Homo sapiens: one gene and its partner. The gene in region 1 interacts genetically with each later gene. Each region holds a gene or a part of one and is shown on either strand. Other genes may lie near its edges.

The links. A genetic interaction does not mean that the proteins touch.
Region 2: changes in SNRPG (region 1) and ZNHIT6 together harm fitness less than expected from each alone (positive genetic interaction), as found in Homo sapiens cells (one large-scale study listed by BioGRID).

Annotation. Positions count from the first base shown.
Region 1 is NC_000002.12:70,280,862-70,283,740, forward strand, and holds the end of SNRPG (small nuclear ribonucleoprotein G), read right to left. Parts: intron 824-2,879; coding exon 773-823; 3' UTR 501-772; downstream 1-500. UniProt on the Homo sapiens protein: Plays a role in pre-mRNA splicing as a core component of the spliceosomal U1, U2, U4 and U5 small nuclear ribonucleoproteins (snRNPs), the building blocks of the spliceosome.
Region 2 is NC_000001.11:85,659,934-85,663,433, reverse strand, and holds part of ZNHIT6 (box C/D snoRNA protein 1), read left to right. Parts: intron 1-1,156; coding exon of another isoform or gene 1,157-1,175; exon of another isoform or gene 1,176-1,316; intron 1,317-3,500. UniProt on the Homo sapiens protein: Required for box C/D snoRNAs accumulation involved in snoRNA processing, snoRNA transport to the nucleolus and ribosome biogenesis.

The DNA of each region.
Region 1 (2,879 bases):
GTACAGTTTAAAAGTGATTCACGATTTGCAGGCTTTTTATCAGATCACAAAAAAATCAGTCTTTAAGCATTTGCTTGGTAAGGTTTCTTAAGATTAGGTTTATAATACAACCATCTGTAATGTATCTCTCGTTTGAGCTTGTGGGCCATACAATTCATTAACTAGATGAATACATTGTGGACAGCATCCTCACTACCCCTCTCTACTCACTCACAAAGAACCATGATACACTGGAATGTTTTTCTCTGGAATCCTCTTTCTACTCTTGTATTAAAATTTTTCCCCACTTCATGATTATATTCAAAATAAACAACTACATCATTACTTCTTGTCTTTTGCTTCTGTTGTACTATATTTGGAATGTAGATGTACTTGGGAAAGTCAGGCTAGATCAAAGTTACTATTCTTACAAGTTTTGAAAATTAGTGTTTTAGAAGAAACTCACTCATGTTTGTAACTTCTTTATCTGTTCAGTGTTGAAAGATGATGGACAGAAGGAATCCTTGCCATGTTTCACATTTAATAAGATTCTTTCACTTTAATGCATAAAACCCTTTGAAATCAATGTCAACCAGGAAAATTCATGTTAGAAAAAACTGGAATGAGAGCTGATATTCTATATTCAGAACATCTGAGAAAGCATTTTTGACTATTACAAAAGTTTATTTAACAAAAAGTCTAATATGAAAATGTACATGACCTAATTTTTACATCATAGTAAAACAGGCCCTATGGAGAGAGGACATGGGTTTCTCTGCTGAACAGCCATTATTTATACTCGTTCCAAGGCTTCTAACATGATGATACTATTTCCTCGTATTACCTAAGAAAGAGAAAAATAAATTTGAAAAGAACAACTCAGGTAACAGACATAACTATGATGATTTAAGAATTTTCACCAAATCATTAATGGTTTTTTAATATTACATGTCGGTTTGCAAAGCTTTGTTCAAGCCACAGGGACACCAAACAACTCTAAGCCCTTTATACGACAGACATCTTTTGGATTTAAGGCTAACAATTTGCTTTATGAGATTCTAATGCCAAGTCTCCAATGACTAATTTCACCTTTTTTTTTGAGACAGTCTCACTCTGTTGCCCAGGCTAGAGTGTAGTGGCGCAATCTCGGCTCACTGCAGCCTCTGCCACCCAGGTTCAAGCAATCCTGCTTCAGCCTCCCAAGTAGCTAGGATTACAGGAGCCCTGACCACGCCCAGCTAATTTTTATATTTTTGGTAGAGACGGGGTTTCACCATGTTGGCCAGGCTGGTGTCAAACTCCTGACCTCAAGTAATCTGCTTGCCTCAGCCTCACAAAGTGCTGGGATTACAGGCGTGAGCTACTACGCCTGGCCCTAATTTCACCTTCTAAAATGCAGGACTCAAATTTAAATGCCCATCCCTGACTCTATGGGATCCAAAAATTAATGAGTAAAATATGTACAGTAGAGTATGTTAGGTACAGTTTGGAGGTATGAGATCATTTAGGGAAGAAACCAGGATGGGAAATTGTGAAAGGCATGCTTTATGAAAATGACATTTTACCTGGGTCTTGGAAATTGGGCAGAATTTTGAAAAGGAGATTGTAGGAAATTCTAGACAGAACTAAGATGAAGACAAAGTATGAGAGGATAAGGAAGTAATCTAATTTGAATGCAGTAAAAAGTTCACGAAGAGAATCAGGAAACAAAGATAGTTGGCATTCAATCTTGGAAAGCTTCAAATGCCAATCTTAGTGTTTGGAGGACATCAGAAACTAACAATGAGCCAGTGAGAGTTTCACTTGGGGGAATGACAACCATAAGTGTCCCTGCAACAAGATATTATATAAATACGCCGAAGTTTGAATAGGACAGAACCTAGAGGCAGAAAGAGAAGTTATAAAAAAAAGGCCCTAGGAGAACAGTGCTTGACCTAGTAGATAAGCCATAAATGAAGATAAGAATATTTATCGGGGGTGTGGTGGCTCACGCCTATAATCCCAGCACTTTGGGAGGCCAAGGCGGGTGGATCACCTGAGGTTGGGAGTTCGAGACCATCCTGGCCAACATGGAGAAACCCCCATCTCTACTAAAAATAAAAAATTAGCCGGGTGTGGTGGCACATGCCTGTAATCCCAGCTACTCAGGAGGCTGAGGCAGGAGAAATCACTTGAACCCGGGAGGCGGAGGTTGCGGTAAGCCAAGATAGCGCCACTGCACTCCAGCCTGGGCAACGAGCGAAACTGTCTTTTGTCAAAAAAAAAAAAAAAAAAAAAAAAAAAACAACAAACCAAAACCAAAACAAACCAACAGACAAACTTATCAGAGTATAGATGAATCAGCTGGTAAATGAATTCAAGAGGGGTAGAAAAATAAGCGAAACTGGAAGGCTAGGGGACTAAAAACAGTAAGTCCCTAATAGACTGGAGATCATCATAATCGATAGATCACCCATCAGTCAAGTAGAATTGGATAGGTGAATGGAGGGGTACGGGAGGGAAAGAATAGGTAATGTAGGGGAGAGAAAGGTAATGTAATAATTTGAGGTGTTTATTAGAAATGGAGGCATTCCAAAAAGATTCAAAGTGGAGCTATGCTTATAGGCAGCTAGAGTAAAAGTAGTTGTAACTTATTCTTTTCTCACAGTATCATGCTTGTTTTATTTACACATACGCTATGATTTATTGTGTTCTCCATACAAATGTAAATTTTATGAGGGCAGGGACTTAGGTGCAAAACCCCAGTGCCTAAAATAGTAGCAGGCACACAGAGGGCTCAATAACCTGGTAAATATGAATAAAAGAACTCACATGTGATTACTGCAGCTGACAGAATAGAAGGGAACACAATTGGTAGGATAAGTGTCTTGGAACCTGGCAGCCAATTATCAGCAATGAGT
Region 2 (3,500 bases), on another chromosome or scaffold:
TCTACTTTACCTGATTAGGAATCGTAGGCTCTGAAAAATTGACTTACCCAAAGAAACTAAGTTTGTACAGTTTATAAGGCTAAGATTTGGACTCAGACCTGTTTGTCAAGAGTTCAGTTCATGCTTTTTCTACTAACTAGTCTCTGTCTCTGTCATAAATCATAAATATAATTCCTGATAAGTATGTCATTTCCTTGCTAGGAGTGCCAAATTACTTTTGGAGTATAAAATCTTATTACTGATGCTAGCTTAGCAAGTTACACTTTGGAAACATTTTCACCTGTTATAGTCCTTACAAACTAACCCATGAGTAGGTATCTTTCCTACCATTATATTGATGGGCAAAACTGAGTCTCCTTGTGGAGTTATAGCTCATAAGGACCAGTGATAAGACTGGAACTCAAGCCTTGTGGATTTAAAAGTAATTGAATTTACCAGCGAAAATCAGAAAAGATTTCAAAGAAATAATATCTAGAACAAGTCAGAGCCTTGTAAGCCCCTCTTTAAAACAGGTTTTAAAATATATAGTTGGCCATTTTATTTAACCACATCCATAGTTTAAATATCATGGTTAGAATAGGATAATTTACCAAATGCAGTTCTGAACTGGTGAGCTTTCTGAATTAAGACATATGTCTGTACTACACAATTCATGATCTACTCTCCATGTCAAGCAGGTATCGTCCTCATTTATGTGGATATATAAAAATCCCAAAACAAAGTGCATCAAACCACTAACTTAACTACTGTGATTTTTAAAATATGAAAACTAAGAGAGATTGGGTGAGAAAAAGATTAACTATGGCAAAATCCTTTTCTATATGACTTGAACATTAGGAGTTGCAAAAATTGTTACACAGAAGTATTATTTGGAGAAATTTTAAATAATACCTTTTAAAGTTTAAATAAAAGAAGAATTAAAACTTTTTTGGAATAATTTAGTTGAACTTTTAATCTAGAAACCTAGATTGAGAAATAAATACAACTGTGAAAAAATATAGTTAAGTATCAAAAATTGTAGAAATTTAGAGCTGAAGGGATCTTAGTGATCACCTAATTCAATGATCTTATTTTAGTGGAAAAATACTGTGGCCTAGGGCCTGCTACTAGATTGCTAAATTTGGAGAAATTCAAACTTAGTTTTGGTATTTTTTAGCAGGTGGAAGGGGCGATGATCCATGGAGTGTCAGTGATCAGATGGGACATAAAGTGGTTTGTGATTTCGTTTCTTTAAAAACTTGTCTTTTGTGGTTATGAGGAGGTTTTTTTTTTTTTTTTAAAGCACACTAATTTGCTAATAAAGTACAGAGAAAGAAGTTCAAGAGCTTGGCCTGTTTCTTTGAAAGTTAGTGACAGAGTCAAGATTAAAAGCACACCCTTGATTATCATGACAACTTTTATTTATATATGTCACTGTAACACCTGTTTGGCCCACTGAGCCGTTCTGCCCTCATAATGCGCCCATGAGGCTGCCCAGAGCAGGGTCAGCCAGTGAACCTGTGAGGGTGAGCAAGTGAAATAACAAGAGGAAATGTCTAAGAAGGGTCCCAGAGGGCAAGAGAAAAGACAAATGTTAGTATCTTAATTCCTCCAAACCTAAGTAGTTTGTCTTATGGTAGCAGAGACATTATATTAATGGAAATACCAGAGTTTGTGAAAATTTCAAAAAGATAAAGCTGTCCCTTAGGATTCAGTAGCTTAATGGCTTGCAAAGGAGCTAAACCTAAGTGTTTTAGGCAGTGCAAAGCTGGGCTCTTAAAACTTGCTTCAAGATAGTGGAAACAGAAACATTCAAAGTACCTTTATCTTCTTGGAAGTAAATGTGACAATAAAATAATGATTTGAAGGTCATACAGAAAGTTGTAAGGCTACATTTAAAATGCAAAATGCACATAAAGGCAGTATGTTCACTGCTAATGAAATCCAGTGACTTTGTCCTGAACTAGAGTTTCTATAGGAAAGTGTTGTTATTTTTGGTAAATAAAAATATAAAACAAACACATGTGCTTAGGGCTTAAATAAATGAGTGAGCAGTTTCTGTGTTTTATCATTTAGCCCTCACAGTAACTCTCTGAAGTGATACTGTCATTATCCCCATTTTCAAGCATGGAAACTGAGGATTAAATAACTTAAGTAACTTGTCCAGGATCACAGACCAGTGAATGATGGAGCCGGAACTTTAACTCAGCGTTAAACTCCAAACCCAAACAACCAGTAAAAGTTATTGCTTCATTTAACTAAATTCCAAGTCCATAAAATATTAACCCCATATGTGTCTGATAGGCTTTCTTTATGAACAGTTTACAAAATTTACTTTTAAATTACTGATAAATATTAATGGTAGATTAAGAGTAACCACTTGTAGTAGAAAAATCTAAGAAATTCAGAATTTCAGCTAAAAGATTATTTAGTGAAATCTGAACGCTTCATTTAACAGGTTGGAAAGCTGTGGCCCAGAAGCTTACTGACACTCAATAGCGTATTGCTGATTAGAAGTTTGCAACATTTTAGGCTAAACACTAAATAAAATCCACTGATTCTAATCAAAACCACACAACATACCAGATTTTCATTGCATAAAATATTTTTAAAATAATTTATCAGTTGACAAGCCTCTTATAAATCTTTGCATCCTTAGTGCTTTTTAAGTGCCTGCTTAGCATGTAAAACAGGAACCAAGTTTTTTTAAGTATAATCATTACAGTTTCAGGATCCAAGTAAGTGTAATCATTACAGTTTCAGGATCCAAATAAGTGTAATCATTACAGTTTCAGGATCCAAATAAGTGTAATCATTACAGTTTTAGGATCCAAAGCATGTTTAACTTGTTGCATAGTAATTTTTATGTACCTCTGAACATTCCTCTGCTAGGAACATATTTTATATCAGCAATAATTTTAGGCTCTGATTCTCATGTGGCCTTTGAAGAACTCTTTTTGTTGCTTCTTGGTTTCAGCTTTGGAAATCTAGAGAAACCCAATTAAGATTTAATATTACAAAAAGAAATCAGATACCTAAAACATTAAATATGCACTGAAAATTATTTACCAAAAACTGAAACAAGTAAAAAACATTCCCTTATTTGAAAAATGCCTTTCATTAGAAGCCTTATGATTTAGCTAAAATGCACAGAAGATAAGTTATTGCCAAGTGCTTGTAGGATGCCACTTGAAAAGTTCCTGTTTGAGAGTCCAGGTCTTATTTCCTCCCAAGAAAAATTTAGTTATCACCATTTTATATTTTACTTTGTAAGTTAATCTTTTACTTGGGTATCTGATATAATCTCATTTTTCTTTTTTATATAATTGCTACTAACTTTGAAAAAAACACTGCTTATTTCAAAGAGAAATAATGTTTAAAAGATGTGAAGCATTTAATCCTTGAATGCTGGAAACACTTTTAAAGTATTGTAAGTACATCTGTATTACATTACACACAGGGAAAAGAATGTATGAATTCTATGATCTGTGGGCACTAAGGTGGCTGGTTTAGAAAAACAG